3 separate regions of the Homo sapiens genome follow, and all the other regions are linked to region 3. Evidence: fine-mapped expression QTL. A gene starts in region 3. Each other region holds a variant in brackets. All regions are shown on one strand. Distances are between the middles of the regions. Region 1 holds the start of INTS14 (integrator complex subunit 14). Region 2 overlaps DENND4A (DENN domain containing 4A). Region 3 holds the start of HACD3 (3-hydroxyacyl-CoA dehydratase 3).

Region 1 (8,167 bases), 81 kb before region 3:
TGTTTATTGTGGCACTATTCACAATAGCAAAGACTTGGAACCAACCCAAATGTCCATCAATGATAGACTGGATTAAGAAAATGTGGCACATATACACCATGGAATACTATGCAGCCATAAAAAAGGATGAGTTTATGTCCTTTGCAGGGACATGGATGAAGCTGGAAACCATGATTCTCAGCAAACTATCTCAAGGACAGAAAACCAAACACTGCATGTTCTCACCGATAGGTGGGAATTGAACAATGAGATTACTTGGACACAGGGCAGGGAACATCACACACTGGGGCCTGTTGGGGGGTGGGGGGGTGGGGGAGGGATAGCATTAGGAGAAATAACTAATGTAAATGATGAGTCAATGGGTGCAGCAAACCAACATGGCACATACATACGTATGTATCAAACCTGCATGTTGTGCATATGTACCCTAGAACTTAAAGTATGACTAAAAAAAAATTAAAATTAACTTTGAATTTTTATCCATAGACACAAATTATTATTTTTTTTGAGACAGGGTCTTGCTGTGTTGCCCAGGCTGGAGTGCAGTGGCATGATGTTGGTTCACTGCAACCTCCACCTCCCGGATTCAGGCGATTCTCATGCCTCAGCCTTCCAAGCAGCTGACTACAGGTGCCCGCCATGACAGCCGGCTAATTTTTGTATTTTTAGTAGAGACAGGGTTACACTATGTTGGTCAGGCTTGCCTCGAACACCTGACCTCAAGTGATCTACCCACCTCGGCCTCCCAAAGTGCTGGAATTACAGGCGTGAGCCACCGTGCCCGGCCTCCCAGCCTCACAAATTACTTTTTATAAGTTTTTAAAAACTAGTTTTATTTGGCTTTATCTTCTTTTTCATTGAAAGATGCCACTAAGGTTTTAAGAGAGTGAGTGGTGAGCCTGGGTCAGGGCCCAGATCATGAGGGGCCTTTAAAAATTTAGACTTCATAGCATTTTGTTTGTTTGTTTGTTTGTTTGTTTTTAGAGATAAGATCTTGTCCTGGCTGGAGTGCAGTGACACAATCACAGCTCACTGCAGCCTTGAACTGTTGGGCTCAAACAATCCTCCTGCCTCAGCCTCCTGAGTAGCTAGGATTACAGGTGCACACCACCACACCTGGTTAATTTTAATTTTTGTAGAGACAAGGTCTTTCTATGTTGCCCAGGCTAGTCTCGAACAGCTGGGCTCAAGCGATTCTCCTGCCTCCGCCTCCCGAAGAGCTGAGAGCCACCACTCTAGGCCTTTATAGCACTTTTCAAAGGAAAGAGTGTATGGAAGAAAGAAGTTCCTTTCTACTTTCTTAGAGAAATGTAGTATCTACCAAGTTTTCTCTGCTTTCCTCTTTGACTTTTTTTTCCAATAACCTCTCTTACTCCCCTCCTATCTTCTTTCCACAAATGCATATCCACCATCACATGCCAGACCCTGGGGGATCCAGTGATGGATAAAGCTCACCCTATTTTCAGAGCAGAGGCAAAGTTAGTTGGAATTGGAAATGTGTAAAGCTTTTCTTTGTTCAGTGAGTCTTTTCATTATTTAAAATAGAGAGCAGCTTTGCGGTTTTCTCAAATGCTCTGGAAAAAACTGAAAGAGGATTGAGAGCAATTTTAAAAGGAGGGGGAGCACAGTTTTCCAAATACATTTCGAAGGAAAAGAGGGGGAAACCTGTGGATTAAAAGAGACTTCTGAGATATAGCAACGGATTTCAATATCTGGATCTTACTTGGATCCTGATTCAAATAACCAAAGTGTAAAAAAGTAAAATTTATGATATTTATGACACAACTGAATATTTGAAAGCTGATTCGATATTTGATGATATTAGGGATTTATTGTTAATTATGTTAAATTTGATAATGGTATTGTAATTATATATTTTTAAGTTCTCTTTTAAAGATACATAAGGAAATATTCCTGGATAAAATGTTATGCTATCAGGGATCTCCATCAAAATAATATGTGGGGAGAAGTCGGTAGGGGTGTACATGAAACGAGATGAGGATTGCATTGACAGCAGAAACTGGGTGAAGGGCACACAGGGATTTATTATCCTAATCTCCCTATCTTTGTCTATGTTTGAAAATTTCCATAATAAAATTTTTTTTCAGAAGACAGAAGGGTCATATTTATGATTGACTTCTGCTTTGGTGAAAATAGTGAAATAGGGAGGAGGTAATGATGAGAGGAAGGGGCTGGAGCTTGGAAGTATGATTTGGGAGTGAACAGTCTCCAGACTACAGGGGCAGAAAGGGAAATGCAGGGCAAAGGACATCATGGGAGTATGAGAAGAGCGGGAAGAATGCAAAAGAGAAGTAGGCCCACTGCTCTTCCCCCACCCCTCAGCCTTTTCTTCACTTACTCATTCCCTATCCCTTATCTCTGTAGATGAAAAATCATCTTGGGGCCAAATGTAGTGGCTCATGCCTGTAATCCTGGCACTTTGGGAGGCCAAGGAGGGAGGATCGCTTGAAATCAGGAGTTCAAGACCACTCTGGGCAACATAGTGAGACCCCCATCTCTACAAAAAATTTAAAAATTAGCCAGGCATGGTGGCACATGCCTGTAGTCCCAGCTACGTGGGAGGTTGAGGTTGGGGGGGATTGCTTAAATTCAGGAAGTCAAGGCTGCAAGAAGCCATGACCATGCCACTGCACTCCAGCCTGGGTGACAAAGACCCTGTCACCACACACACACACACACACACACAAAATCACCCTGGGAACTTAACAGCAAAGATTCTCAAGCACGAAGTCATGAAATTTCATTTCCATTTCACTTGGCAAGGTCTGGGAATCTGCATTTTCAACACGTGCTCTGGGAGATTGAGATATCTAGACTTCCCTTTGAGCTCCCCAGTACCTAGCCCCTGTGAGAGCCATGGTTTTTCTGTCATAAACCTTTCCTCTGTCAGACTGGGGATCAAACACTGCCTTTCAAAGCCTTTGGGACAGCAGTCCACTGTTTCAAGGCAGGAAAAAATAAAGGGAATGAGAGATTATGCAAAGGAAACTATTTATTGATTTCCTTTAATGTGTGTGTGGAAACACGCAAATGCTGAGGGTCGTTTGAGTGGGGAAAAGAAATTCATCAGCCAGTGATGGCTTGAAAGACACCCCCTTTAAAACCTTCTAACCTTTGTGCTGATGTTCTCTGATGTTATAGTCACTGAACAACCTTCTGATTTGTAATGGGATTCCACTAAGGAGGAAAAACAAACAAACAAACTAGTTGCCCTAAGTAACACAGTCCTCCTGGTAGCTGTGCCTTTTATCATCAATTTAATATATTGATTTTTTGCTTTCCAAGTCTCCCAAAGCCTGTTATTCAGAAGAACTAGGTCACAAGATTTGATCATCCATCAGTGAACTAACTTAAGCTTTAGGGTTGGGTAAGGTAATGAATCAGACCCTGCAACTGAGCCAGAATTACCACGAGGACAGTAACCCTATGGCTAAGTCGTTGTCACATTAGGGGTAACTAGACACTTGCTTACCCACACATTCTTGGCCACATCCCTCCCAATAGGGCAAGATTAGAAATCATGACTAAGTTATCAGGCTGCAGCCTTACTTACCTGGAGCCCAATGCCTGCTCAAGCATAACTAGGTCTTGACATGGTGAGATCAGCCAGGTTGGGGAAAGAAGTTTTGAAGCAAATAGGGCAGTCTGCAGGGCCCTGGCCCCAGTGCTGGCAGGGATATTCCCAGGGACAGGAAAAAACTACAAGCAACTGGCCCCACAATCTCCCACATAACAAGCTGTGAGAAGTCAGACAGATTTGTCTGTTCAGTTCAAAGCATCCTCCTTCCTCGTCCCATCTCCTAATCTCGCCCCATCCTATCAGCTAAAAGAAAAAGGCAAATGCCTGAGGCCTTCTAGAGGCCTTTCTGTACTCACTTTGTAACCTATGTGGTTCCACATTGTTCTTTGAACCGTAACTACCCAGGGGCCTGCTGGCATCCATCTAAGCCTATCTCTAGCTGGGATTCCCTGGCTCCCTACATGGTTAGAAAGAAAGTCACCTCTTGCCCTCTTAAGGACCTCACTGAGGCACAGACTACAATGGAGACACCAGGTGGCCAGAGTGGCAGGCAAGAGCCCATGTTGCCTTACAGGGAAATCTGAGCACGCATGCCTTGTCCAGGGTGAGAGGAACGAGGGCCCTCTGCTTCCCTCAAAGAGGGGATAGGGGAAATAAAGTGAGCATTTGGGCTGAGGAGACCAAGAGGCCAAGTCTTGAGGTAAATTGGGCTCAGGTCAGCTAAGAAGGATATACAAAGCATACCTCAGCCAGGAATTACAGTTTTGGGGTTTTTCCCCCCAAGATTCTCGTGCGTTAGCCTCCCAAGTAGCTGGGATTACAGGCACTCGTTACCATGCCCGGCTAATTTTTGTATTTTAGTAGAGAGCGGGGTTTCACCATGTTTCCCAGGCTGGTCTCAAACTCCTGACCTGAAGCGATCCGCCCACCTTGGCCTCCCAAAGTGCTGGGATTACAGGCCTGAACCACCACGCCCGGCCAGGATTTGTAGTTCAGGAATTGCAGTTTAAAAAGAACAGGAAGAGGATTCTGTCAACCGGTTCAGAGGATACGAGAGAGGGGGCTAAAGAGTGACGAGGAAAATAGCAGGAAGGGTTGGGCTCGTGCACCGACGGGGCCCAGGGGAGTGAGGGGACAAAAGTGTGAAGCGGACACAGAGTCACCGGGCCAGGTGAGGCCCATGGGTCAGTGGGGCAGAAGGGGAAGGAAAGAGCCCGAGAATGGGGAGAGATTCAGGGCAATGCAGAGAGACACGGCAGGAAACCCAGCCAAG[G/A]CTCGAGAGAAGTTGGGGATTTGTGGGAGGAGAGGGGTGGCCGCGGATTGGCCATCGCGAAGAGAGGCCGCGCCCCCTAGCGTCCCTCCGGGATGAGCCAGAACCCTGCCCGGGCGACCCTGAAGCTCTCCAAGGACCGCCCCGCCCAGCGCGGAGTGCAGGCGCCGGATTCCCTTCTGTCGCGCGGCCTTATAGTTCCGGCTGTGGCGCGCGGACGGAAAGTTTATGCCGACGGAAAGTTTATGCCGACGGACTGTGTCCGGCGATGGGCACGGGGTGAGTGGGGAGGCCGAGGGCCCGGGACTGCCTTTCGCTGCTTGTTGGGGTTACAGGTGAAGGGGTTATGGGTGAAGAACAACCCAGGGCCAGCGCTTGGCCTTCCCGCCACCGTGGCGGCCGCCCCGCGCTGTCTGTGAGGCGCCAGTTCCGGGGCGCTGCTCCCGGCCTCCCCTCGCTCTGAGGCTCGGGGTCCCCAGCTCCGCGTAAACTGCACGATTTCGCCCTCTGCTCAGCTCCCCTCTGCCCCCTCTTTCCAAGAGAGACTTCCAGATCCCACATTTTCTTGACTGATTTTTAAGGTAAAAATACATCTCCCAGATGTGATTTTCAGTCTGGACTTTTAGAGATGAAATTATATCTGAGAACTGGGGAGGGACTCCCGGAGGCTGACGGGAAAGCCAAAGAGCAGGTGAGGCACTAGAAATTCAGGTAGAATCCTGCTTTGAGAGCGAGACTGCTGAGAATCAGTTCTTTATGAATGAGCTAATTATCACCTTCAGGGAAGAATTACAAACGTCTAGCTGATGGACACTTGGTATTCAAGGCCAAATAGGTGGCTAGGGCCTATTTCTCAGACTGTTCCTGAGAAAGAAGAGCCCTAGTTGTTTGAACAGTACACGTGGGAAGGGGGTGGGGGTGGGAGACTTGGGGGCTCAGAATCCACCCAAGTGAGGAATACATAGTGTTGTGCTCACAAAATTGGTAGACTGTGGTGGGCAGGGATTCCCCCCCACCCAAGACGGAGTCTCGCTCTGTCGCCCAGGCTGAAGAGCAGTGGCGCGATCTCGGCTCACTGCAACCTCTGCCTCCTGGGTTCAAGCAATTCTCCTATTTCAGCCTCCCAAGTACTAGAACCACAGGCGCACGCCACCACATCTGGCTAATTTTTGTATTTTTAGTAGAGATGGGGTTTCACCATGTTGGTCAGACTGGTCTCGAACTCCTGACCTCGGGTGATCTGCCCGCCTCAGCCTCCCAAAGTGCTGGGATTAAAGGCGTGCCTGGCCTTTTTTTTTTTTAATCAGGCCTATACTGCTTGAGTGAACTATCCTTCAGGAACTTTCAGTTCCCTCCTTTACTCCAACCTGAGTACTAAATTGATCTCCCACGACTTTGTAACTGTTAATGAGGTGCATTTGGGAGTCGACACAAATGCATCACTTGGGAGAAAGAGCCAGCTCCAGAGGTGTCTTCAGAGAAGGCAAGACTGCCAGCTGTCATCACTGTCAACAGCAGATTTCACGGGCTGAAAGTGCTTTTTTGTATTTGATCTAAGTCTGTGTAAACTGTTTCCTCCCATTCTCCTAAGAGGTGAGGGCAGTACTCCTCATGATCCTCAACTTGTAAAAAGGCCTCCCTGCATGAATGGGACTACCACAGGAGCTGGGCAGACGTGAGGGAGTCCCCCATATGTCTGCTTGAATGAGGAGAAGAGGAAATGTGTTTCTGGTGTCCAGAGTTAACATTTATAATGTATTTTGCTAAATAATATATGGTATATCTGGTGATTTAGGGGTAGTTCATCAGTTGTTATCAAATTGTTGGGCACCTACTATGTGCCAGTTACTGTGATAAGTTTTGAGGAGACATCATGGGCAAAATGTGGCATGGTCCCTGCCCTTAGTGAGCGTATGTTATGGTCTAATATAGTGTAGTTGAACCAATATTGTGCAGGACCTCACTTTTTTTTTTTCAGTCGGGCCTATACTGCTTGAGTGAACCATCCTTCAGGAACTTTCAGTTTCTTCTTTTACGCCTATGCTTACAACCTGAGTTGTAAACATTGTTTCCATGAACCAGTGTATTCTGAGTTCGAAACAGCCTACTTACAAATGGAATTTTGGCTGGGCGCGGTGGCTCACGCCTGTAATCCCAGCACTTTGGGAGGCAGAGGCAGGTGGATCACGAGGTCAGAAGTTCGAGACCAGCCTGGCCAATGTCGAGGTCAGAAGTTCGAGACCAGCCTGGCCAATGTGGTGAAACCCCATCTCTACTAAAAATACAAAAATTAGCCGAGTGTGGTGACACGCGCCTGTAGTCCTGGCTACTCGCGCCTGTAGTCCCGGCTACTCGGGAGGCTGAGGCAGGAGAATGGCGTGAACCCGGGAGGCGGTGCTTGCAGTGAGCGGAGATCGCGCCACTGCACTCCAGCCTGGGCGACAGATGTCGCAAGACTCCGTCTCAAAAACAAAAAAGAACAAATGGAATTTTAGAATATGACACATTTGCAGCTGGGCACCATCCTTAAACAAGTAATCTGGCTACTGTTAAATGTTTTGAAGTTAATCCCAAAAAAGAAAGTTGTGAACATTAAATTTCTAACCTGTTTATATCCACCTAATCTCTCTAATTGTATATTTGCATTATGATTTTTATGAAGTTGTAAGCAGTGTATAATACAGTTCTGGGGCCTGCTTTTCTCAGTTACTAATGCTTTCTATAAGTATTTCTGATATCTGTAGTACATATGTCATTTATTTATAGTTTTATGATATTTCATCATGTCAGTAGCCTACAGTTTGCTTAATAATAGAGTAGCAGCAGGCTATATACCCATGAGCAGGTCTGTGTATCTGTAAACTTTTTTATTTTTGAGCACCAAAATGTTTTCTTTATGCTAATTCTCAATCCATAATTTTGAATAACTCCATTTGTACATTTTGACTTTTCTACCCAATTTCATGAGATAATTCCAGCTGTATAAATTTTTTTTTTTTTTTTTTTTTTTTTGAGATGGAGCCTTCGTCTGTCACCCAGGCTGGAAGGCTGGAGTGCAGTGGCACGATCTCGGCTCACTACAACTTCCACCTCCTGTGTTCAAGGGATCTTCGTGCCTCAGCCTCCCAAGTAGCCACCATGCCTGGCTGATTTTTGTATTTTTAGTAGAGACAGGGTTTCACCATATTGGCCAGGCTGGTCTCGAACTCCTGACCTCAAGAGATCCGCCCACCTGGGCCTCTCAAAGTGTTGGGATTACAGGCATGAGCCACTGTGCCCGACCTTACATATTCTTTAATTTTGTTCTTTTCCTTCACAGTTGAAGCACCATTGGCCAGTTTATGTACAATGAATAC
Region 2 (8,186 bases), 170 kb before region 3:
TGGCACACGCCTGTAGTCCCAGCTACTTGGGAGGCTGAGGCAGGAGAATCACTTGAACCGGGAGGCAGAGGTTGCAGTGAGCTGAGATCGTGCCACTGCACTCCATCCTGGCGATAGAGCAAGACTGTCTCAAAAAAAAATATATATATATATGTGTGTGTGTGTGTGTGTGTGTGTGTGTGTGTGTGTGTGTGTGTGTGTTATTTTCCCCTTTTCTTATTCAAAAGGTAATATACTATTTACAGTTTGCACTTTGCTATTTTCACTTAATTATTTTGGCACTCATAGAGAACTTGCTCACTCTTCTTTTTTAATAGCTGTTTAGTATCCATTGTGCAGATGGTTTATTTAACCACTTCCCTTTATATGAACACTTGGCTAACCAATGTGGCTTTTTTAATATATGTTTTTAAAACTCCTTTAGGTGGATATGGACAAGAGCGGTGAAGTACGACTTATAGAACTGGATGAATCTTTCAAAAGTGAACACACTGTTTTTGTAACACCACCTGAGATCCCCCACCTACCCAATGGTGAAGAACCCCCTTTACAGTACAGGTATTCAAGAGGCAGAATGTTTGAGATTGAAAGAGAGAAGCAATCCATCATCTGTGACGTAGCTTTCTAAGGACTGTGGTATTTTCAAAAATCCAAACTTTACAGATCCCTAATTTTTAGGTGGTAAGCAAGCTTATCCCACATCCATTATTAAGCTTTGAGGTATAAAAAGAAAACATATATAATTTTGCATAATATAGACTTGGGAAGCTCTCTAATGATGTCTGCATAAGTATCTCTCCTTGTAAATGTTGATTACATTCAGTTAGACTCCCCACACCAAATGCAGCACTAGAATTTTGATTTTTTTTTCGTTAAAGCTGGTTTCCTCACTTTCAATTCCTCTTTTCATCTCATACACAGATTGATTAATATAGCCTTGGTTTACAAAAAGATTAAATCTAATTTAGAGCCAATCTTCGTGGCCTTGATTTGTACGATATAATTTTTTAAGTTACTAATTTTTTTCATGAGTTTTAAGTCATGGAAATTCAGAATTATTAGAATTGATCATTGTTAATTTAGGGAATTTGGTTAGACACTGTGCTAAGTATACAGACTTAAACGATATATTGTCCCTGCCTTCAAGTCTAGTGAAGAAGAGAGAAAAGTCCTGAGCACAGTAAAATAAGGGCTATGATAGAGGTGAATGCATTATTTAGTTCCCAATATGCATTTATTTTTACTTAAAATTGTAGTTTCTTTTAGAGTTTAAAAGATTTCTTAATTCTCCAATAATATTTTCTTACTTTGTTTAAAGATTCTAAAAACCATTTCACATCTATCACCCATTGAATCATGGTTTGTTATTTTCATTGAAAAAGGATTTTTCAATGACATCTTTGTTTATGACTTGGATTAAATTCTTCCTTTTACAGATGAAAAAGTGGTGTGATAGATGTTTATGAATGTTGATTAATCAGAGACCACTTGATTTCTACTCTTTTCATCCAGTGATGATGATGTTTGTATCACTTTTTAAATGTCTTCTGTCAAAGATATTTAAAATATTTCTCTTAATTTCTCTCTTCCTCTCTTTGTCTTTCTAAACAAGTTCTCATTTTTTAATCTCTTTTGTACTTTATGCTTATTTGTCTTTTGGTATGTGTCACTTCGAGTTTTGTGTTTCTGTGGTTTGGTTTTAACTTTTTAATTTAAATTTTATTTTTAGATTTAGTCCTTTAACTCTAAGAAAATTTGGCCAGACGCGGTGGCTTATGCCTGTAATCCCAGCACTTTGGGAGGCTGAGGTGGGCGGATCACTTGAGGTCAGGAGTTCGAGACCAACCTGGCCAACATGGTGAAAACCCTGTCTCTGCTAAAAATACAAAAATTAGCTAGGCATGGTTGCAGGTGCCTGTAATCCCAGCTGCTTGGGAGGCCGAGGCAGGACAATTTCTTGAACCGGGGAGGTGGAGGTTGCAGTGAGCCGAGATCGTGCCACTGCACTCCAGCCTGCGTGACAGAACGAGACTCTATCTCCAAAAAAACCACATTATTTCAGCCTGTGCAACATAGCAAGACCTTATCTCTATAAATAATTTTTTAAAAATAGCTGGGCGTGGTGCTGCACACCTGTGGTCCCAGCTACTCAGGAGGCTGAGGTGGAAGGATCACTTGAGCCTGGGAGGTTGAGACTGCAGTGAGCCATCATTGAGCTACTGCACTCCAGCTTGGGCGATGGAACAGACATAAATCAAAAAATAAAATAATAAGAAAATTACTTATCTGAAGACGTTTCTGTTTTTTAAGAATCTGTCGGTTTTTTTCTTCAGACTACCAATATAATTTTGGTATAATCATTACCATAATTGGGAAAACACCGTAAATGTCCTTAATGAGCACAGAGTCTGCCTCATAAGAGATTACTCATAAACTTACATTGTCTTTGTAAAATAATGAGGCATTTGAAATAAGACACACAAAATGGTCTTATTATCTCATCATATACATACAATGAATTTTTTAAGGGGCATGGTTTTCCTGGATTTCTTTGCTGTTTCCTACTCAACATTGAATCATTACTAATATTTTCTTATTCTATGGAATTTGACTATAGTAATGTGTAAAAAATATTGTCTACCCTCTTTTATTATAGTTAGGTTTCTTCTTAATTAAAACTATGTGCTTTTAAGAAAATATTACATAGTATTCTTAAACAGGTTAAGTGTATTGCTCAGGGGGCTGCTTTGGTTTCTTTCAGCATATCTTTTTCCTAACTGCTGCCTTTCACTTATTTACTTATTTATTAATGAAGTTTCACTATGTTGTCCAGGCTAGAGTGCAGTGGCTGTTCACTGGCAGAACCGTAGTGCACTACAGCCTTGAATTCCTGGGCTCAGGCAGTCCTCCTGCCTTAGTTTCCTGAGTAACTGGGATTATAGGCATGCACTAACTGCACCCAGCCTAGCTGCTAGCTTTGAAATGTCCAGAGCATCTTGGTCTCGCACCCTTATTAGGTTTACCTCCTAATAGAGCACCTATTCTAACCTTTTCTTCCTCTTATTTAGCCTTCTCAATTTTCTTTCTCATAAATGATGCCCTGAACCCACTAGCTAACCTGACAAACCAATTCATGAGAATGTGAGAGCAAGGCCTGGTGTGCTAATATGCTAAACCTAAGGTTGTTATTTGCATCTTTCTAAGAAGGGAGGTTCAACAGTAAATATGTTAATCCAAAGCAATGACATTAATGATTGCCCTTTTTGAAAGAGTCTTAATTTGGTAGGCCTTTTACCAACTGTCATATTATCTAATATGTTTGCTATGTATTAACAAGAGTACTAACTTTTAAAAGTTTGCTAAAGTTACCTTGGAGTTGGATGTCATGTTCATTTATGTTTTTCCCTTTTCCTCAAAAACTAACTTGAGTCTGAATTTGGCTATTACATTTCTAATTATAGTAAGAAGAGCAACATTAGCATGAATATTTGTTGAGTGTATATCACAGCCTGACAAAGAAAGATAGTTAAATTCTATGTGAAGAAGTTATTGGTCGTAATTATATTAACCTGTAACCACTATGATCATCTATGTGTGCTTGAGAACTCTTTTTTGTTTTGTTTTGTTTTTTCTAAAACAGCTATAATGGATTTCCAGTTCTTAGGAACAATTTATTTGAAAGACCTGAAGGATTTCTACAAGCAAAGAAGAACAAATTGCCTTCAAAATCAAGTAGTCCTAATAGCCCTTTGCCCATGTTCAGAAGAACAAAACAGGTACTTTATCACATTCTTCATGTAATCAAATTTTAGAACAAGAAATAAATTGGATATTTATCCTCCCGTAATATGCTTTATCACTTCATATATAACTATTACTAGATTATTATGTTCACCAAAGCACTGTGAAGATGGAGCAATCTGACTTCAAGAAATTAACTAGTTCTCTTGTCCTAGAACTTTATTTTATATGCTGTTTAATACAGATTCAAAAAGAAACTTGAAAACGCATTAATTACAGACATATTTTGTTATGGAAACATTATAAAAGCATGTGACTTGTACTTGTTTAGCACTCAGTTAAATAAAGATGCCTAAGTGCATAAATTTATTAGTAAGATCTTTATATTTTTTCCAGGAAATTAAATCAGCCCATAAAATTGCAAAGAGGTACTCTTCCATCCCTCAGATGTGGTCTAGGTGTCTACTGCGCCACTGTTATGGACTGTGGTTTATTTGTCTCCCAGCTTATGTGAAAGTCTGTCATTCAAAAGTCAGGGCTCTGAAAACAGCATATGATGTGCTTAAAAAAATGCAGTCAAAGAAGATGGATCCACCTGATGAGGTAACAATTATTTTATTGTTGTTATTTTATTTTTTTGAGATGGGGTCTCACTCTGTCACCCAGGCTGGAGTGCAGTGATGCAGTCATGGCTCACTGCAGTCTTAACCTCTTGAGCTCAAGAGATGCAATCCTCCCATTTTAGCCTCCCAGATAGCTGTGACTACAGTCATGTGCCACCACGCCTGGCTAATTTTTTAATTTTTTTGTAGAGACAGAGTCTCACTATGTGGTCTAGGTTAGTCAGAAGCTCCTGGGCTCCAGAGCTTCACCTGCCTTGCCCTCCCAAAATGTTGGAATTACAGGCATGAGCCACTGTGCCCTGCCACAATTATTGTTTAAAATGCATTATTTTATTCTAGATTTATGTACATGGTGACATCTGTG[T/C]TTCGGTACAATTTTGAACTTGTATTTCAGGTATGCTACCGCATTCTTATGCAACTCTGTGGACAATATGATCAGCCAGTGCTTGCAGTTCGAGTGCTTTTTGAAATGCAGAAAGCTGGTATTGACCCCAATGCCATTACTTATGGTTATTATAATAAGGTAAATACCTTGGTTTAATGGATAAAGAGTATTACTTTTGTCATTATGCAACATTAATGGCAGAAATAATTTATGCAGGGGGTTATTTGGCATTTATTTTAGAGTATATAAAATACATTTTGTCAATCAAGGAAGACTTTAGTTCTCTTTTATGTTATACAATCTACTTTGATTTTTTCTTTCTTTGAAACAGGGTCTCACTCTGTGAGACTCTAGCGCCAGGCTAGAGTGCAGTGGCACAATCATGGTTCACTGTAGCCTTGACCTCCCAGGCTCAATTGATCTTCCCACCTGAGCCTCCTGAGTAGCTGGGACTACAGGCATGTGCCACCATGCCTGGCTAATTTTCATATTTTTTGGAGAGGTGGGGTTTCACCTTGTTGCCCAGGCTGGTCTTGAATTCCTGGGCTCAAGTGATCCACCTGCCTCAGCCTCCCAAATTGCTGGGATTACAGGCATGAGCCACCACTCCTGGCCTACTTTGATATTCTTTAGCTTAATTCTGAAACCAATATATGTTCACTTATAAAAATTATTTTACTAATTATTTTATTTTGTTGAATGAATAGGCTGTTTTGGAAAGTACCTGGCCTTCAAGAAGTCGTAGTGGCTATTTTCTTTGGACAAAAGTAAGAAATGTTGTTTTAGGAGTAACACAGTTCAAAAGAGCTTTAAAGAAGCATGCACACTTATCACAAACAACTCTCTCAGGTAAGGGATGTATGTGTTTTACTTGTTCTTCAAAATTAATTGATTAGCTACAGTTTACATTTTTAGAAATTTTAAATAGTTTTAAAATATTGAATGTTTTAGTTTTTAGTTTTATTAAGCAAATTATATTACTCTTCCCATTTAAAAACCACCAGATTTCACTTCTGTTTAAATGTTTCAACTTCTGACGACCTTTGTGTGTGTTTTAGTGTTCATTAATAACTCACAATAGGTTTCTTTGTTATAGTTGTATTTTGCTAAGTATGTGGCACTTTTCATGTTCAGTATTACATTGGTGGATTATTAGCTTGAGCAACAAATTAATGTGTATTTACCTCTTCGAGTAGTAAAATGCTGTCAAATTGTGTTCTTAAGCAGATGGCAGTGACCTGGATGCTGTTAGTCATGGCAGCATGGATAGTGGTCATGGGACACACACTGTGGAGCAGGCACCTTTTAATACGGGTTTAATCAAAGTATATGCTACTGATGATAGATCTAGTACAGGTTTGTGTATGCTTATGTATACATTTATTATAGTACATTTTTAAAACTAGATTTGCTAGCCTATGTTTTTTTACATTTTCATTTTCAGTGATGTTTAACTGTCACTTTTTAATTTTATATATTATGTATTTTATTTGATATTAGATTTAATAACTATATGAAATTTTATTCATTCTTTATTTGAATAGAAATAAAAGTTTTAAGAGAGGTTATAAATCACTTTATTCAAGTATTTAGTATATGATAATCCAGTTAACTCTGCGTAGACATAGATCTGTTTACCCTATCATTTTCTTATAATAAATTCTTTGAAATTATGAAAATGATATTAGAGTTTTTTAAAAAAAGAAGCATAGCTCTGTGTCTAAGTTAATAGTATTGTACCAACATCAGTTTCCTGGTTTTGACAATGTACTATGGTTATGTAAGGTATTATCATGGGGGGAAGCTAGGTGAATTGTACCAAGGAACTCTCTGTACTGTAATGTTTTTGCAACTTCTAAATCTTAAGTGATTTTAAAAGTCATAATAAAAAATTTTAAATATATAAAAATATAGCATTTTAAGGCTGGGTGTGATAGCTCATGCCTGTAATCCCAGCACCTTGGGAAGCTAAGGTGGGTGGTTCACTTGAGCCCAGGAGTTTGAGACTGTCTGGGCAACATAACAAAACCCTGTCTCTACAAAAATACAAAAATTAGCTGGGCTTGGTGTCCCATGCCTGTGCTCCCAGATACTAGGGAGGCTGAGGTAGGAGAATTGCTTGAACCCAGGAGGTTGAGGCTGCAGTGAGCCATGATCAAGCCACTGCACTCCAGCTTGGGTGACAGAGCGAGACCCTGTCTCAAAAAAAAAATTTATATATATATATAAAATAATATATGTATAATATTATATATGTATGTGTAGTAGTATATGTATAACATGTGTGTATAATACATATACACATATGTATATGTATTTATATATGTGTATATAGAATTATATATCTTATGTGTATGTTTATATATGTGTATATAGAATTGTATACTTCAGTGCTAGAATTATAGTGCCGAAGATGGCATTAATTTCATAGAAGTATAAGTTCGTATATCAGCTTTTCTTAACTATTATTACAATTGACACACTTAAAAATAAATTATTTACATAATTCTGTTCTTTTTATTATTACATTTCAAAAATTACACATGACTTTTGACTACAGATAAGAGCAAACTCTTAAAGGACAGAAACTTTAAAAATTGAAGCATTACTAATAAAATATGAAGGCCCCTATCTCTGCAAATGTCAATATTATTTTGGTCTGTCTTACTTTATACCTAAAGTTTAATAAATGTAAGCTCATTTTGTTGAAATGTAATATTCATAGTTATTCTTCCTTGATTGATTTTATTCCTTGATTATGCAGTGTGATTTTCATCAGTTACAATAGTTATCCTTTGGCATTATCTCTTACAAATGAAGAAATCTTATCTTTTAACTGTGGCTTTTAAAAAGGCTATCTTAGGCCTGGTGCAGTGGCTCACACCTGTAATTCTAGCATTTTGGGAGGCCAAGGCAGGCAGGTCACTTGAGGCCAGGAGTTCAAGACCAGCCTGGCCAACATGGCGAAACACCATCTCTACTAAAAATGCAAAAATTAGCTAGGCATGGTGGCACATTCCTGTAATCCCAGCTACTTGGGAGGCGTAGGCACGAGAATTGCTTGAACCCAGGAGGTGGAGGTTGCAGTGAGCCAAGATCACGCCACTGCACTCCAGCCTGGGCAACATAGTTGAGACTCTGTCTCAAAAAAAAAAAAAAAAAAAAAAAAAAAAGGCTATCTTAAAATAGTGTAAAACCTAATAAAAGCATGAATTTCATCAAGATTATTCTCAGATTTTTCTATTTATAATTCCTTTAAAAATGGACCTGAAGTTTGATTAGAAAAAATAAAAACTGAAAATTATAACAACGATATTAAAGTGAATATCTAGTGATACATAATATAATTTCTTTAGAGAGTGCTTTACAAGTTTATAAACATTTTTCATATATAGTCTCATATAGTAATAACAACCTTACGTTTTACAAATTTGGGA
Region 3 (8,186 bases):
TACGTCTTTTGCCTATTGGTCTGTAGGTGTTCTTTAAATAGTCGTGATATTAGTCATCTCTCAATGATATGCACTGCAAATGTCTTCTTCAAGTTTGTCTTAAATGTGCCAATCTTTGTCTTTAGGGTTTGTGTTTTGTGCATCTTGCTTAACACATTCTCCCCCTTTCCAATATTATAAAGATAGTCTCCTATATTTCTTTTTAGTAGTTTTTCTTTATGCGTTTAGGTCATTAATGCACCTGAAACTGATTTTTGTGTATGGCATAAGGCAGGATCTTATTTTCTTTTTGCCATTTGGATTACCAATTGTCCCAGTACAATTTCCTGAATGGGTCATTCTCTCCTCATTAATTTGTAAGAGCGCCTCTTGTCATACCTTAACTTTTCATATATGAATAGGTCTGCTAATAGGCTCTATTCTTCCATTGCTCTGTGACCATCCCTCTCATCTAAGGTTTAATATCGCAATCATCATAATCACTCACTTGAACTGCACACTAGAATTTGCAAAGCACTTTCAAATCCATTTTCCAATTCAAATCTCAAAATGGTCCTATGAGTTAGGCACTACTGTTCATATCTGTCTGGATGAAGAGCGTCAGGTTCATAAAGGTTAAGTGAATCATGGTCACTAGAGCATAAGTGTAATAAGAACAAGGACCCAATCTCATGTGTTCAGTTAGCACTCTTTCCACCAGACTCTGTTAGGTAAGGACAGGAACAATATCTTTCAAACAGCTCTCAAACACAGCTACGCTCTGTTCTCTGCTCACAACACCCAAAACAAACAAGCACCTTGTAAATAAACCAATGCTTTAACAACTATGTTTCTCGGGACAAACACGTTCATTATGTTCATCGTGAAAGTAAATTCAATCTTGAAAGTAACCCTGCTTTAGCTGGCCTCTTTGCTACCGTTCACCTCAAGCACAGACGATGCCACTGCTGAAGTCTTTATTGTCCACCATTTCTCCTCACATCAGCCGTGTTCTCTCATAGTCACTAGCCCTGCAGCATCCAAGACAGAATAGAGATGTGATGACTGGACAGTTCCCTGTGTCAGGATGGAGGGAGACAGAGCCAATGCCTCCAAACTGGAACTTAACACTTTAAAACTCACACTTACACATAAGCTGTGGGTCATGCTATAGAAAGCAGAGAGTGTTAAAGTGCTGTCCAAGAACCCCACACCTAGCTTAATGATAGACAAGAGTAGGTACTCCATAAACGATTTTTACTGAACAAATAAATGAAGTGCTTCATCCAGAGCCAGAACCACTGGTTTCTTTTCTTTTTTTTTTTTTTTGAGACGGAGTCTCGCTCTGTCCCCCAGGCTGGAGTGCAGTGGCGCAGTCTCGGCTCACTGCAAGCTCCACCTCCCGGGTTCACGCCATTCTCCTGCCTCAGCCTCCTGGTAGCTGGGACTATAGGCGCCCGCCACCACGCCTGGCTAATTTTTTTGTATTTTTAGTAGAGACGAGGTTTCACCGTGTTAGCCAGGATGGTCTCGATCTCCTGACCTCATGATCCGCCCGTCTCGGCCTCCCATAGTGCTGGGATTACAGGCATGAGCCACCACACCCGGCTGCTTTTCTTTCTTTTTTTTTTTTTTAAATAACAAATCTGCACATGTAAAACCACTGGTTTCAACAGGCCCTGCATAGAGCAATCAGTTGAGAAAGAAAAAAAAAAGGCAACCCGTGACACTCCAGAAGCAGGCATAGCACTCACAGCCAGGCCATGTTATTCTCCTATGGGACATAAACAATCTCACAGAATACCAACCTCAGACAAGGTTACTCTGAAATCCTCATAAAATGAGACAAAGGCCATTTCACAATTTTGTTATAAGCACAGACAAATACATAGTGGCTATGCCACTCACGAAATACCAAACACCCTTTGGCCAAATTGAGTGACTGCTACTCCTGTAGCAATTACAGTTTTGTTCTTATACTAGTCTCCCTGCCCTACAGGTAAGATTTATTCAGATACCCAACCACGAAACTCCCATATTTTCTTACAGGATCTTATCTGAAGTGAAACCCAACCTCCTTAACCCTCCCCTCCCCTAATCACCAACACCCAAATCCTATAATCAGTTCTAACACCCTCCTAATGAAACACCCCAGGGTTCCCCATGGAGTATGCTCTCTCAATGCAATGAGTAATAAACCCAACTTGTTTAACTACGGGTGTGTTATTGGTGGCCTTTGGGCATTGACACGGCTTAAGTCAGAGATTACAAGTGTCTAAAAGTCTATGCCTTTCTCTTTCTGGAACATTCTCCCAGTCTTAGTTTGACAAAAATAATTCTCATTTCTGGAAGTCATCACTAACTAAATGAAAGAAAGGTAACAAATTCCTTTAACACCAGATACCTGGTTCAACATCCAACTCCAATTCTACCAATAAACATACTCCTACACAAAACTTTTTGTTTGTATATGATACGCCTCCTTCTAGATAGCATGCCCTTGAAAAGCTGGGTCTGACTCACCTTTGTAAATCTGTACTACCTTACATGTGTTAGAGGATTGCTAACACATGTAAACACTCTTTTATGAGGGTAACATCATGCTTTTAAACTAATGGTAGTTGAAATATGGGTGCCTCAAAACTACAGATGTGAAACCCCAGAGAAAACAAAAACTCAATAAGGGGGAAAAATGATTTATTTTTCCCCAAAAATTTTTAGATGGTTACTTTTTTTTTTTTTTTTTTGAGACAGAGTTTCACTCTTGTTGCCCAGGCTGGAGTGCAATGGCACCATCTCAGCTCACCGCAACCTCCGCCTCCCGGGTTCAAGCAATTCTCCTGCCTCAGCCTCCCGAGTAGCCAACATAGTGAATTACACGCATGCACCACCATGCCCGGCTAATTTTGTATTTTTAGTAGAGATGGGGTTTCTCCATGTTGGTCAGGCTGGTGTCGAACTCCTGACCTCAGGTGATCCTCCCGCCTCGGCCTCCCAAAGTGTTGGCATTACAGGCGTGAGCCACAGCACCTGGCCTGTTCCGTACTTTTTTATTGACTGCTGGAAGAACCCTCTCTAGACGGGGACTTTGATCCCCATCTACAAAAGATTTTGTTTGTTTTTTCCTATTCTATTAAACCACCGTGGAGCAGTAGAGGGAGACAGCACAGAACATTTACTCATACTCTGACCCAAAAGTATAGCCTCAGTCTGGATGAACACATTAAACGACACACCATGCAATGTCATAGCCTATTTAAAGGCATTCTGGCCACTACTGTCTTCATCTTTCAACAGGAAAACTGTTTATATTCCAGAAGCAAAGATTATATTAAATTCAATAAATTCAAGTCGACACTCAGAAAGCACCTACATTTTACCGGATCCACGGGTGATCCAAGCAGATGCCTGTTCAGAGGCAGAGAGAGTTAAATGGAGTGAAAGAGATGACAAAGTGCCATAGATGTTAAGGAGAAGTTTCCAATAAGAATGACTGTAGAAAGAACCTTCCAGAGGCTGGGCGCGGTGGCTCATGCCTGTAATCCCAGCACTTTGGGAGGCCGAGACGGGTGGATCACCTGAGGTCAGAAGTTCGAGACCAGCCTGGCCAACATGGTGAAACCCTGTCGCTACTAAAAATACAAAAATTAGCCGGGCATGGTGGCACGCGTCTATAATCCCAGCTACTCGGGAGGCTGAGGCAGGAGAATCCCTTGAACCCGGGAGGCAGAGGTTGCGGTGAGCCGAGATCGCGCCATTGCACTCCAGCCTGGGCGACAAGAGCGAAACACCGTCTCAAAAAAAAGAAAAGAAAAAAAAAGAAAGAAAGAAAGAAAGAACCTTCCAGAATGAAAATTCCAGTTTCTCAAAGCCCAGAATCTTTAGTTTGGACAGAGACATGAGGATACACAGGTCCTGGAGTCTCCACTACTACGTGCCTTCAGCTTGCTTACATTAAGGGCCAAGGAGCTCAAACAGAAATGCTTAATGTAACTTAAGAACTTTTTAAGTTCTCTGTGCAACTCAGCAAACCTGAGCTCACAACCTTCAGAACAGAGGGGGAAATCACTTCCTCCAGCTCTTGTGAATTTTAAAATTAAAAGTAATGAGAATGATTTCCATCACTGAACGGTTGCGAGGTGGGTGTGGCCCCCCACCCCTCCCCCTCCCCCACCTCCGGCAGCGCCCAGCCTCAGTAACGTCCGAGGGGCCTGGCTGGACCTCTCAGGCCAGCGGCAGGCATTCAGCTACGGCCCAGCAAGCCGCTGTCACAACCGCACCCCTGACCCAACAAGCTCATCCCACATCTCGAAGGGCCCCAGCCAACTCGAACCCCGACGGCCAGGCAGCCAGGGCCGGGCCTGGGCTCCATGAAGGCCGCCGACTGCGAACAAAGAAGAGGCCCGGGGTAGCCTGAGAGGCCCAGGCCGAGCTCTCTGGGGACCCGAAGGTTCCTGCAGCCCTCGGGGGGTTGTGCCCCCGGCCCGAGATCTGCAGATGAGCCTCGAAAAGCGCCAGCACGCCGTAAGCGCACCGCGTCGCCGACCTTGTTGGCGCACTGCAGGCTCTCCGGCGCGCACGCGGACAAAGGGGGCAGGGGTCCTGGCGGGTACCCGGAGCCGCGATCCCGCGCGCTTCCCGCCGCCCGACCCGGCCTTTACCTGTACGTCACTCAGCTCCACGCGCAGATATAGCTCGCGGTGTCGCTGAGCCCAGTAGACATGCGGCGTCAACACCTGATTCTCCATGGCCACACTGCCCAGGGCGCGGGGAGGCTAGGCTCGCTGCGCCTCGCTGCCTCAGGTAGTGCTCTGCTGGCGCGAGCAGAAAGCAGGCCTCAAACCCTAGCGCTCCTGAGCGCCTGCAACCCGGCACCTCGAGATACCCCACGCTCGCGGGCCGCGCCTGCGCAGTGACGCGCCGGGATGGCGGCGGCGCCAGCAGCGGGCCTTGGCGCGAGCCGGGCGGGGGCGGGGCGCAGGCGGGATAGGGGCAGGCCGGGGCACAGAGACGCCGCAGCTCGCCGCGGCCGCCTAGGGAATTGGAATCAGCGGGTGGTCTGCTCTCCCCACTCGTCTTCAGGGACATGCTTTAAAATAAGCTTTAAAATAAAAAAGGCTGGAGACTTATGGGGGACCGATCAGCCTGGAAAAGGGTTTGGGACTGGTGTCTCTGGACGGTCCTTCGCATTCTGTTTACTGAGTACCTACTGTGTGCCTGGGTTTCAAAGCTAAACACTGGAACAACAGAAGTGAGACACAGTCCCTTCTGTCTTAGAACTCCCAGCCTATTAAAAGATGCAAGTAATTACAGATGAAATGAGGATAATAATGGTGATAGGGGACATGGTGTGGGAGCAGCGTGGAAGAGCGTTCCAACAAGGGAAAATAAAGACCAGGGCAGCGCTGCCCAATAAAACTGTAGGTGATGATGGAAATATTGCACATTGCGCTCTTTAATACGGTAGCCACTAGCCACATGAGGCTTTTGAGTACTTGAACTGAATAACCGAATTTTCAATTTTACTCACTTCTGTTTTTTTTTTGTTGTTGTTGTTGTTTTGTTTTGAGACGGAGTTTCTCTCTTGTTGCCCAGGCTGGAGTGCAATGGCGCGATCTCGGCTCACCGCAACCTCTGTCTCCCGGGTTCAAGTGATTCTCCTGCCTCAGCCTCCCGAGTAGCTGGGATTACAGGCATGCGCCACCGGCTAATTTTGTATTTTTAGTAGAGACGAGGTTTCTCCATGTTGGTCAGGCTGGTCTCGAACTCCCGACCTCAGGTGATCCGCCCGCCTTGGCCTCCCAAAGTGCTGAGATTATAGGCGTGAGACACCGCGCCCGGCCAACTTTATTCACTTCTAATTTAAACTTAAATATCCATATTTTTGGTGGCTATTCTATTGGACAGTGCAGGAGACTGTCTCAAAAAAATAGGAAACTCAAACTAGAGACAACACTCATTTATGTCTTACTTAAGCTGTCTTGTCTGTATCGGGTTTCATCCCCAAGTTCTTCTGCAGAGAAGAATTTAATGGGAAGAAATATTTATATGAAAACTAGAACTCTGGGACAAAAATGGAACTCATATTCAATCCTGTTAGCTCCCATTTATTTAGCAAAGTGATTCTATTAGCACCCGTTTGTTTAGCAGAGGGATCTAACGCTGAAAACAAATTCTGCTAGCTCTCTGGAAACATTTAGCTCAAGAGTGGACAGAATAAAATATAGAGAGTTTTCATATAATGAATGTGCTGAGCTCACAAAGAGTTTATGATGATAGGAACTGAGGGCCGTGGGAACCATTGTCAGACATTTGAGAGCCAACCCTTGAGAACGGGATGGTGAAATGCGAGTAGGAATTTGACTGAGTAAGAACCAGGTAGGCCGTGGAAGCACAGGGCGCTTGCTTCGTTCACAGGTGAAAAGATGTGGACCAGGTGCAGCGTCTCACGCGTGTAATCCCAGCACTTTGGGAGGACGAGGCGGGAGGATCGCTGGAGCCCAGGAGTTTGAGACCAGCCTGGGAAAAATGGCAATACACTGTCTCTACAAAAAATACAACAGTTAGCAGGGCGTGGTTGGCGCGCCCCTGGGGTCCGAGCTACTCGGGAGGCTAGGGTGGGAGAATTGCTTAAGCCCAGGAGGCGAGATCGCGCCACTGCACTCCAGCTTGGGTGACAGTGTGAGGCCCTGTCTTAAAATTTAAAAAAGAGAGAGGGTTGTGGAAGGAGGTTCTGCTGCTAGGGATTAAAGGCATAGAGGAGAGAGGTCGCCCTGAATCTGGAAAGGCAGAGGGTGCATTAGGAAAGTCTTTGTTTGCTTCACTGAGGTGCCTATACTGTATCCCACAGACACATGGGAGCCAAGGAAGTTTGTTAACCTGGAGATTAGTAAAATCAAATGTGCTCAGCAAGAAAGACCTGTCAGAGAGGAGGAGGAATTGGTAGTAGGCAAAGCAATGGGAGACCAATGCAATCTGCCAAGAATGAGTTGATGAAAGCAGTGACGTTGACAGTCTTGAATTTTAACGATAAAATATTTTTTATGATAAAGGTATTTTATTGTATTGTGTTTACTACAATGCAGATGCAATATGGGGCACTTTTTAAAAACATTGAGATGTAGTTTACATATAGAACATGGGTAAATCTTAAATATTCAGTTTAAGCTGAATTTTTCTATATGTATATATCCATGTAATTATCACCTAGATCAAGATCTGGAATATTTCCAGTATCCCAGAGGTTATTTCATGTTAAAATATCTTTGCCTCTCAGTAATTACTATCCTGATATATCACCATAGAGTCTTTTTTGTCTGTTCTGTTCTTGAATTTTATATAAATGGAACCTACAGTGTCTGGTTTCTTTTTCTTTTTTCTTTTTTTTTTTTTTGAGACAGAGTCTTGCTCTGTCACCCAGGATGGAGTGCAGTGGTGCAGTCTCGGCTCACTGCAACCTCGGCCTCCCAATTCAAGCGATTCTCCTGCCTCAGCCTCCCAAGTAGCTGGGATTACAGCTGTCCGCCATCACGCCCAGCTAATTTTTGTATTTTTAGTAGAGACGGGGTTTCACCATGTTGGTCAGGATGGTCTCTAACTCCTGACCTCGTGATCTGCCTGCCTCAGCCTCCCAAAGTGCTGGGATTACAGGCATGAGCCACCGTGCCTGGCCCCTAATTTTTGTATTTTAGTAGATACGGGGTTTCACCATCTTGGCCAGGCTAGTCTTGAACTCCTGACCTCATGATCCACCCGCTTCAGCCTCCCAAAGTGCTGGGATTACAGATGTGAGCCACCGCACCGGGCCTTGGTTTCTTTCATCAACATAATGTGTATGAGATTTATCCATGTTGCTGAGTGAATCAGTAATTCATTCTTTTAGTTTTTGGTTTTGCTCTGTAGTAGTTGACTATATGAGTATACCACAAATTATTTATCCATTCTCCTATCGATGGATATTTGTGTTGTTTCTAGTTTTTAGCTATTACAAATAAAGCTGCTCTGAATATTTGTGTACCTGTCTTTTGGGGATAAATGCTCTTAATTATCTTGGAATAAATACCTATGAAGGGAATTGCTAGGTTACACAGGTGTATGATTAGCTTTAGTAGGTGTGCTAAGCAGTTTTACAAAGTGTTTTGGTCAATTTACATTCCACGGCAATGTTTGAAAGTTCTAGTTGCTCTATATCCCTAGTATTTTCAGAC

The links.
Region 1: its variant is fine-mapped to the expression of HACD3 in whole blood (TOPMed, PIP above 0.99).
Region 2: its variant is fine-mapped to the expression of HACD3 in whole blood (TOPMed, PIP above 0.99).

What each region holds. Positions count from the first base shown.
Region 1 is chr15:65,608,021-65,616,187 of GRCh38, reverse strand. INTS14 (integrator complex subunit 14) reads left to right here and starts at 5,057. Exons shown (of 12, transcript NM_001394796.1): 1 at 5,057-5,090. It also overlaps a transcript of SLC24A1 not described here. RefSeq lists an enhancer at 4,980-5,139. The variant G/A (reference allele first, on the strand shown) is at 4,815.
Region 2 is chr15:65,698,463-65,706,648 of GRCh38, reverse strand. It overlaps DENND4A (DENN domain containing 4A), which reads left to right. Exons shown (of 33, transcript NM_001320835.1): 15 at 425-558; 16 at 3,641-3,776; 17 at 4,138-4,344; 18 at 4,759-4,887; 19 at 5,457-5,598; 20 at 5,974-6,105. Among named protein-coding and RNA genes, the nearest start is that of SNORD13E, 5.6 kb to the right of the region's middle. The variant T/C (reference allele first, on the strand shown) is at 4,729.
Region 3 is chr15:65,527,173-65,535,358 of GRCh38, reverse strand. It overlaps HACD3 (3-hydroxyacyl-CoA dehydratase 3), which reads right to left and starts at 4,896. Exons shown (of 11, transcript NM_016395.4): 1 at 4,641-4,896. The coding sequence starts at 4,727. RefSeq lists a silencer at 4,814-5,033 and an enhancer at 6,072-6,572.